Linked DNA regions of Homo sapiens: region 1 is reported to be linked to region 2. The links are microRNA targets in miRTarBase. Many come from high-throughput screens and were not tested one by one. Region 2 holds a microRNA gene; the other region holds the end of a gene's coding sequence.

The links. Region 2 holds the annotated microRNA hsa-miR-1273h-5p (CUGGGAGGUCAAGGCUGCAGU, at 3,125-3,145, shown strand). A microRNA usually pairs through its seed, bases 2 to 8, with sites in the 3' UTR of a target mRNA and lowers its output. Matches are read on the target gene's strand: a 7mer-m8 pairs with bases 2 to 8, a 7mer-A1 pairs with bases 2 to 7 and ends in A, and an 8mer does both.
Region 1: the mRNA of TIAL1 is a reported target of hsa-miR-1273h-5p. The part of its 3' UTR that is shown has no 7-base or 8-base seed match.

The regions. Positions count from the first base shown.
Region 1 is chr10:119,571,150-119,576,149 of GRCh38, forward strand. It overlaps TIAL1 (TIA1 cytotoxic granule associated RNA binding protein like 1), which reads right to left. Exons shown (of 12, transcript NM_003252.4): 12 at 2,316-4,642. The coding sequence ends at 4,516. Among named protein-coding and RNA genes, the nearest start is that of TIAL1, 23 kb to the right of the region's middle.
Region 2 is chr16:24,200,024-24,205,200 of GRCh38, forward strand. MIR1273H (microRNA 1273h) reads left to right here and starts at 3,093; the gene lies at 3,093-3,208. All of the region lies in intron 16 of PRKCB (protein kinase C beta), which reads left to right.

The DNA.
Region 1 (5,000 bases), not on the chromosome of region 2:
TGATCTGCCCACCCCAGCCTCCCAAAGTGCTGGGATTACAGGTGTGAGCCACTGTGCCTGGCCAATTACGAGAATATTTAATTACTAAACATAGTAGAATACACATTTAAGCAAAACCCTCATTTGGACCACTTAAGAGTGAAGGCTTACAAAAACTAGTAAAAGTCTAAAGGAAATAGGTTTTGCATCTTTCCAATACGTAATAAAATTGCAAAGTCAATGTTTATAATGTATTAAGTAGAAGCTCAAATGCTTTTAATAGGGAAAATTTAATTTGGACATACTAGTAAAGTATCTAAAACATTTATTAAATTATTTTTGTCAAGTATCATCTTTACTCATAGATACTACCAAAGAGCAACCTAGACAGTAAAATTAGTTCCCGTATCTGAGGACTCCAAATTAATAAATTTTAATATATTAATATTAAACAGAGCATGCATTTTTAGAAGGATGCAAATTTCTACTCCTTCATATCCAGAGATTAAATTCAGCAAAGCTAATGGACTTGTTAACACTTACACAGAACATGGAAATAGGTCCTGACTACATACATACTCCACATAACTACTGAAAACTTAAAACCCAGTTGCTTATTTCATGGCAACCTGGTAGAATAATTATGTAATAAACGACAATAAGAAAAAGCCACTTATCATATAGTCTAGTCTTTATTGAAAGACTTACTTCAACTGTTGTTTACAGCTTTGGCTTAAGTTGGCCATTTTAGCCTCTCACTGCCAGCAGACATAAAAATCAAGTGGGAATGGCACGGGGGTTGGGAGTGAAAATACTAGTAGAGAAATTATGAGAACAAAGAATATGGCAGTCAGTCAGAAACACATCACCAAAATAAATCTCAAAATAATTATGAAATAAAAAACATTTCCTTGCATGCCCAAAAAGTCTCTGCTGATGTTTTTGATGAACGGGGTGGGGAGCAACGATTCTTAGGCTTAAGTTGGATCAAGATAGCATTGGGTCATGTTATAAAATCATCTGTTAGCTCAACAGCCATACTTTTAATTAATTCATTTATTTTTTGAGATGGAGTCTCGCTCTGTCGCCCAGGCTGGAGTGCAGTGGCGCATTTTCAGCTCACTGCAACCTCCACCTCCCAGGTTCAATTCTCCTGCCTCAGCCTCCCAAGTCACTGGGACTACCAGCGCCCACCAGCACGCCCAGCTAATTTTTTTGTTATTTTTAGTAGAGATGGGGTTTCACCATGTTGGCTGGGCTGGTCTCAAACTCCTGACCTTAGGTGATCCACTACCCGCCTCAGCTTCCCAAAGTGCTGGGATTACAGGTGTGAACCACCATGCCCGGCAACAGTTGCACTTTTTTTTTTTTTGAGACGGAGTCTTGCTCTATTTCCCAGGGTGGAGTGCAATAGCACAATCTTGGCTCAGGGCAACCTCCGCCTCCTGGGTTCAAGAGATTCTCCTGCCTCAGCCTCCTGAGTAGTTGAGACTACAGGCACGGGCCACCACGCTTAATTTTGTATTTTTAGTGGAGACAGGGTTTCATCATGTTGGTCAGGCTGAGCCACTGCGCCCGGCCCAGTTGTAGTTTTTAAATGGTACATTTCATTTGGATAAGTAGCTTTGTATTTTAAAAACCACTTAATGGCCAGGTGCAGTGGCTCACGCCTGTAATCCCAGCACCTTGGGAGGCCGAGGTGGGTGGATCACGAGGTCAGGAGATTGAGACCATCCTGGCCAACATGGTGAAACCCTGTCTCTACTAAAAATACAAAAATTTACTAGACATGGTGGCATGCATCTGTAGTCCAGCTACTCGGGAGGCTGAGGCAGGAGAATAGCTTGAACCCAGGAGGCGGAGGTTGCGGTGAGCCGAGATTGCACCACTGCACTCCAGCCTGGCGACAGGGCAAGACTCCGTCTCAAAAAAAAAAAAAAAAAAAAGCCAGACACCGTGGCTCACGCTTGTAGTCCCAGCACTTTGGGAGACTGAGGCGGGCGGATCACGAGGTGAGGAGATCGAGACCATCCTGGCCAACATGGTGAAACCCCCATCTCTACTAAAAACACAAAAAAATTAGCTGGGCATGGTGGCACGTGACTGTAATCCCAGCTACTCAGGAGGCTGAGGCAGGAGAATCGCTTGAATCTGGGAAGCAGAGGTTGCGGTGAGCCAAGTTCTCATCACTACATGTACTCCAGCCTGGCGACAGAGCAAGACTCCATCTAAAAAAAAAAAAAAAAAAAAACCACTTAATATGAAATAACTTCCATTAACTGATCATGAAATTTTGCCCTCTTTCAGATTAAGATGAAGGACACTTCAGTCACATGTTTACTGTGGCAATATAACTAGTCTGGATAATTTTATTAAATCATAGAATATACAGTCAGGAAACACTACAGCTATATTTAGCTGTTAGTTATCTCAATAAGCTACTTAATTTACTGGCAGACCAAAACAGGCATACTAAGCATTTTTATCAATTAAAAAAAGTCTTCAGTTGTTCAAGTTTCACATATACTCATAAAATTTTTAACTCGGGGGCACAGTTAACATAATTTATTGAGTGTTCTCCCTATAAAATATAAATTAACTTTTCCAAAAACATTCCTCAAAGATACTATAAACAAAAGAAATAAGGGTATATTTTATAACAGAAGAGTGTAATAGATGACCATTATGGTAAAACTAAGGTGCCATAAAAAATTTGGCCCAGCTATGAATTTCAGACCCTATGAATTTTTATGTTGAATACATTTGGCTATATTGCTAAGTGGGAAAAGGAGGAAAGTAATACCAAAATTATTGTGACCACCAATTTATAAAATCATTATTTTAAAGCTAATCGTAAAACTTCAAATGTTTAGAAAACAGTAATTTGTGGGTACTAATCGCATCTTACTATGTAACTGTAAAAGGCTATTTTCTCTTTGGTGCCCAGGCCAGCATTTTGAATACATTGCCAAAACATTTGCACTCCCTAGCTCTGACAATTCAAATACATAGGATTTTATCTATTTTACATTCCTGTTTGATAGAAATTTGAGGCAAATTTTACCCACACAGCCTGAAAAATACCTTGAAAGCAAACCTCGGTCTTCTGCATCTTCCAATTGATTCCTTTACAAACTCTGCACACATACAACTTAAGCCTCTGCTCAGGCTTATTATACCATGCACACTGCCCACAAGGAAAAAAATTAATTGAAAATAAAAGCCACAACTCTGTGTACTATTTAAACTGAATATCCAATTATAAATTGGTACATTGAAGTGTCTAAATAAGATGTTTTTAGCAATCTTGTTAAAAAAATTCTTGGGCAAAATATATCTTAATTTTTAAAAACACCCCAAGATTTTTAAAAAACACTTGTACTATACAACTTATAGTAACCTTGAAATTGGTTTACAAGGTTTTAATCAAGGTATTTACATACCAAGTAATGTAAAGCAAAAAAAAAAAAAAAAAAAAACAAAAACAAAAAACTAATTCCCAATGACATTTTAGAACATACTAATGCATCAAAGATTGTATGAAATTAAAATTAAGGCTTTTTCTGCACAATTTGTGTAATTTTAATTTTACATAGTAGCCAACCTTGGAAATGTCAGTCTTAACATTCTGATCAATCCACTGCATTCAATGCAGCGGAGTGTGTTAAGTGTTACTTCAAATAATTACATTGCTGCTACTTCTATGTTGAAGCATGCTTTTTAAACACTGTAGTTATTGAATATTTACAATATGTATCATTTAAACTTCATGTAAAAGCACAAGTATGACTGTCTGACTTCAATACAAACACCATACTTGGATTTCCCCCCAAAATGAAATGTAAAATACTACAATTTTAATAATCGACACTTTTGGAAGTTTTAAAAATATGTCTTAACGTGGACCACCAACATTTGCTCAAGTAACTCAAACAATGCTGTTCCTTTTTTAGGGTGCAAAACTTCAGTCTGGCTTCAGTTTCTTTAGGCATAGAGAAAGAAAATATTTCCTCCAAAGCGACTCCAAAATCACGCATTTCTTCTGAATATCACACTTTTTCTCTGCTGACTTCAAATGTGGTCCACCTCAGGGAAGGGGAGGGGAGTATCAGGATTCAGGATGAACTTATATGTGATTCCCAGGTTTTCACGATCCTCCCTTTTTTGCTCTTTTAAAAACACAGTGAGTTAAAATACTGAACAGCAAGATAAAAATGGAATAGTATCTAAGAATCAAAATGTATTAGCCATTTTTCCTATTATATCAAAATTTGTAGTCAGAATTGTCTTTATTGACTTTATTTTAGTTTTTGTACATAAAGAAAAATCATGTTCATATCCATCATGAACAAAAACTTAAAAAGGCAGAACTAGAAGACACGTGTCCTTCACCAAAGCAAATCTGTGCTAAAGGTTCCAAACATTTCAATTTTTAAAATAAATATTTTCATTTTCCGATGTCTACTTTCATGTCTTCAGAGTGTCACAGGAAATCGAAGCCTATCATGAATTACAATTTTTTTTTAGAGTCCCGGCTCACTGTGTTTGGTAACTTGCCATACCATATCCGGCTTGGTTAGGAGGAGGTATTACAGGGGGAGGAGCTTGTCCTTGGGGAGGCTGAGCACCAAATCCACCCATCCAAGCAGCAGAAGGTGATTGACTTGGAAGAAAAAGAAAAAATCTTCAGCAAACACAAGAAAAAAAAAATCACATATGTATTTACACAAAAATCAAGCAGAGCCTAATCACAGAATAGAAAACCAGAAATCAACACACCTACAACAAATAGAAAGATCAAAGAAATAAATGATATATGTGTAGAATACATATTCCAGTATTAGTCTTTGATATTTTTAAGATAACCACAACTTAACACACTGATGTCTGAGGAGTATCTGCAAACTAATTTTTTAAAAATTGTGAATGATTCAACACATCATCTATTACATAAGAAATTTTAAAAACAAGTTCATGTTGGAAACAGTCTCAAAGGAAGAAATCTGAAAATAAAGCTATGG
Region 2 (5,177 bases):
TATTGCAACAAATAAGTAGCATCTTCACAGCTTTTATAATTCGTTGTCAGGATTTTAAAAGATGCAAATCTTATTTGTTCCTTAGGGCTTTGATTTTGAGGCTGACAAAGACGGCATGCATTGACTAACCTCTGAAAGAAGGGCATGGCAGCATTGAAATGAGGCAGCCGAGACAGGCTCATTAAGGAGTAGAGGTTTCCCTGCTCATTTCTGGTTGTTCTTTTGGGGTATCCACTGTGTGGAGTTTGCAGAGATCTTAATAAAAATATCAACCTACATTTATATACTGACAAACAAATAGCCAAGAGCCATTTAGGACACACAGCTTGGAGTCTGTTTATCTCTCTCCACCTATCTACACACCCATGGAGAACCCATTTAAACTTCAGATCAAACCAGGCTCCCTTTAGATGGTTGGAATTGTCAGGTTCCTGAGCCAGGTGAAGTTCCTAAATCAGTTTCTGTCTTAGTCCATGTTGTGTTGCTATGACTGAATACCACAGACTAGATAATTTATAAAGAAAAGAAATTTATTTCTTACAGTTCTGGAGGCTGGGAAGTCCAAGGGTGAGGGGCTTGCATCTGGTGAGAGACTTCTTGCTGTGTCATCCCATGGCAGAAGGTGAAGGGCAAGAGAGAGTATGCGTGCATGTGTGTGCATATATATGCATATGCATACATGTGTGTGCACATGCAGGGGAAAGATACGGAGCCAAACTCATCCCTTTTATTAGGATCCCACTACCAAGATAATGTTGTTAAGTTCTCATGAGGTGCCACCTCTCAACACTGTTGCATTGGAGATTCAGTTTCTAACACATGAACTTTGGCGGGGCAAGTCAACCATAGAACCTACCAGATACATGACTTTGAGTCATGTACTATTATATTATTATTTATTATTATTATTGTTATTTTGATACTGGTCCATGGCCCAGGGATTGGGGATCCCTGCCCTAAATCGTGAGGAAGATTGAGGCCCATGGGTGCCACTGGTTGGTAGCCGTCAGCTTCTTACCACCTACCGGCACCTCCATAGTCATCTTGACCTCCTTGCCCAGCTTCCATCTCTGTCTTAGCAAATATGTTTTCCCTCCCCCAACTCATGTGAGACTTACCCTCACTCCTGCTCTGGACTCCAGCCTCTTGATCCTTCATGCTTATCTCCCCTGTTTAGTCTGTCTACAGCTTCTCTCTGTATCAACAAAACTCCTATGGTTTCAAATAGGAATCTGATTTAAACTGACTTTTAAGCAAAAAATAATGATAGTTAGTATTCAGATGTAGATGGATCATCTACATCTGGTCCCAAACAATGCCAGCAGGGAAACATTTATCTATATCCCTTAGGATTACTTTCCCCACTGTGTTGACTTCATTCTTCATTCTCAGAAGGCTTTCTTGGGCACATAGCAACTCCCAATTTATGTCCCATTATCTCTGCAACTTCTACCAAAGAAAAGGGCTTCCTTTTTATAAAATCCCAGCAGCCTAGGACTCAATCTTTTTGGAAGATTATTGGGTCATATGCCCATCTCTAAGGGAATTGCTCACTGCACCAGGGGGATGGAATGTGCTGATTGACCGGGCCTGGGTCACCAGCCCCTCTTAGCCAGAGAGCTGGATCTAATCCAGACATTTTGAAAAAAGAGAAGGAATGTCCTATCTAAATCAGACATTTTGAAAGAAGAGAAGGAATATCTCCTTTAAGAAAAAAAAGCCACTGTCATGGCCGGGTGTGGTGGCTCACGCCTATAATCCCAGCACTTTGGGAGGCTGAGGCGGGTGGATCATGAGGTCAGGAGATCGAGACCATCTTGGCTAACACGGTGAAACCCCATCTCCACTAAAAAATACAAAAAATTAGCTGGGCGCGGTGGCGGGCACCTGTAGTCCCAGCTACTCGGGAGGCTGAGGCAGGAGAATGGCGTGAACCCAGGAGGCGGAGCTTGCAGTGAGCTGAGATAGCGCCACTGCAGTCCAGCCTGGGCAAAAGAGCGAGACTCCGTCTCAAAAAAAAAAAAAAAGAAAAAAAGAAAAATAAAGCCACTGTCACTAGAAGAAAAGACAATGCCTGCTGGCTGGGCAAAAACAGCAGCTGTCCTTTCTGACTCTATCCTGGCCTTCTCCTTTGTGCATAAACCTGCTATGTCTTTTTCATGTTAAAAATCCCCTACCTCAAACCTGGGAATCCTCCTTACTACTACTCTTACTACTGCTATGATTACTACCCTACCTTACTTTGCATACAAACACACTTTTGAAAGAGTTGCCAGTTCCTGCTATTTCCACTTGATGACAATTTATTGTTTCCTCAGTTTGGTGCAATCTGGCTTCTGCTCCCGCCATCCTATTGATATTTTTCTCATTGAGTCATCAATGACCTGAAAACTGCCTCTTCTCATAAGCTTGTCTCATCTTTCTTGACCTCACCATATTATTAGGTGCTCTAATCCTTTCTCCTTTAAAAAAATGTGAAAAAATAAAATATTCAAGCAGCATCAGAAGCTACAAAGTGAAATTAAGATTCCCCTCACCCATGGCTCCTAGCTAGGCTTCCTGGTTCTCCTTCCCAGAGACACCCATTGCAACCAGGTTCTTGTGTGACCTTCTAGAGAAGATGTGTTCAGGCCCAGAAATAGTCTACATCACACACAAGGATGTTAGCATGCTGTGTACAATTTCTGTATCTTGCATTATTCCCCTCTGTCTTGGAGATTGTTTCTTATCTGCTTATCTAACTCTACATCACCCTTTGAATAACTTCCTAGTTTCCTATATAAGTGAGTTTATCTGTAGGAAAAGTTCAGAGTGCCTTCTTTCTTTTTAAGCCCCTCTTCTCCTTCATTTTTATGACATTGTGTGTCTGTCTTAGTCTGTTTTGTGCTGCTATAAGAATACCTGAAACTGGGGCCTGGTGCAGTGGCTCATGCCTGTAATTCCAGCACTTTGGGAGGTTAACATGGGCAGATCACTTGAGCTTGAGCCCAGGAGTTTGAGACCAGCTTGGGGAACATGGCAAAATCTGTCTTTACACACACAAAAATTACAAAAATCAACCAGGTGGGGTGGCACATGCCTGTAGTCCCAGCTACTTGGGTGACTAAGGCAGGATTGCTTGAGCCTGGGAGGTCAAGGCTGCAGTGTCGTGGTCACAGCTTGCTGCAGACTCGACCTCCCAGGCTTAAGCAATCCTCCTGCTCGAGTGACAGAGTGAGACCCTGTCTCAAAAAAAAAAAAGTGGATAACTTACAATGAAAAGAAATTTATTTGGCTCATGGTTCTGGAGGGTGGGAAGTACAAGATCAGGGGCTGTATCTGGGGAGGACCTTCTTGCTGCATAGTAACCTGATAGAAGGCATCACATGGCAAGAGAACACATGAGGGAGGGTAACTTACTTTTTAAATAAATTCACTCCCACAATAATAACATCAATCCAGTCACCTCCAAAAGTTCCCACCTCTCAACACTGTTGCATTGGGGATTAAGTGTCCAGCACAAGAACTTTGGGAGAACACATTCAAACCATATCACCACATTTGCTGATGTTCTTCCTACCTTCACAGCCACTCCCAATAGAAATTCCAACTCCACAAAGACTTCCAGTGACAGTTGAATTTGGAGGGTTGAGACCAGCTCATGACCCAGAAAGGAAAACAGAAAGCTTACTTTTTGTTTTGTTACAAGTGCAGTCTCTTAAAAATAACCACAAAATGCCCCCCCAAATGGCATATGGAAAACAGCACAGAGATGGTGTGTTAATCTACCTGAAATGTCTTTCTAAGGAAGTGAGGCTTGGATGGGAACGGAAATGCATCCCTTTTTCTTCCCAGGGTACACGTCTTTTTCTCACTTCCTCTAACTGGGAGCCCCAGGGCCTGGCTTTGTCTTGTAGCTTCCTGCCGTGATGCACCAGGCTAAGTGGGAAGGTTTCTGTTCTATGTCTAAAGTAGCACTGGCAGGTCCTCATTCTGCTTGTAATTGGGATGGGAATATGGGTAGGAATTTAGGGTTTGGCAGAGCGTACAGGACCTCTTTCAAGCCAGAGCACAGCCCTGTCAGACTTACTCACTGGACATGAATGGGTCAGTCAGCCCTCAGCAGTAACCACCAGCTACCATGTTAAGTATTTGATGTGAATTTTATCAAGTCATTCTCGCCACACCCTACAAGAAACTTGAGCTTAGGGGACTTAGCTAACTTGCTTGAAGGTTGTATAGCTGGGAATTGTTGGAGCCAGGATTGGTACCCAGGTTAGCTTAACTTTTAAGTCCGTGCCACACAATCAGATACATAGTATGAGGCAATGGGATGTAATGGAAAGCCCATGGGCTTTGGAATTGAACAGATGGGCTCTGGATCTTGGCTCTCCTACTTGACCCTATATGACCCTGAACAAACTGTTAACTCTTAAAATTATCTGTTAAGTAGAGATAATCCTTTTCCTGCCTATCTCACAGCCTTGTGGGAATCAAAGCTATAAAAAGATAGGCAAATAGAAGGGATAATTACTATTTGAGGGTGAGTTTACTTGAAGCCAACAATGTGGGTTTAGGATGAATGGTGAAGAATAGATAAGAAAAAAAATGATATTCTGTTGACATGGGAAGATGTTTAGAGTGTATTTCATCTAGTTTCTTTTAAAAAGCAAGCAAAAGAACAGAGTCATGATTCCACCTTTGTCTAAAAACTAAAAAACATCCATTCATCTATTCATCCAGCCATCTAGGATACAAACCAAGATGTTAACATAATACAGAGATTTGGGGTGGCGGGATTAAGAAGGATTCTTTTGTGTGTTTTAAAATTTTTTATGGCCAGGCACAGAGGCTCATGCCTGTAATCCTAGCACTTTGGGAGGCCAAGGCGTGCAGATCACGAGGTCAGGAGTTCGAGACCAGCCTAGCCAACATAGTGAAACCCCGTCTCTACTAAAAATACAAAAATTAGCTGGGCATGGTGATGGGTGCCTGTAGTCCCAGCTACTTGGGAGGCTGAGGCAGGAGAATCGCTTGAACCCGGGAGGTGGAGGTTGCAGTGAGCCGAGATCGTGCCACTGCACACCAGCCTGGGCGACAAAGTGAGACTTCATCTCAAAAAAAAAATTATTATTATAATTCCTTTTTTTTTTTTTTTTTTTTTTAGAGACAGGGTCTTACTCTGTTACCCAGGCTGA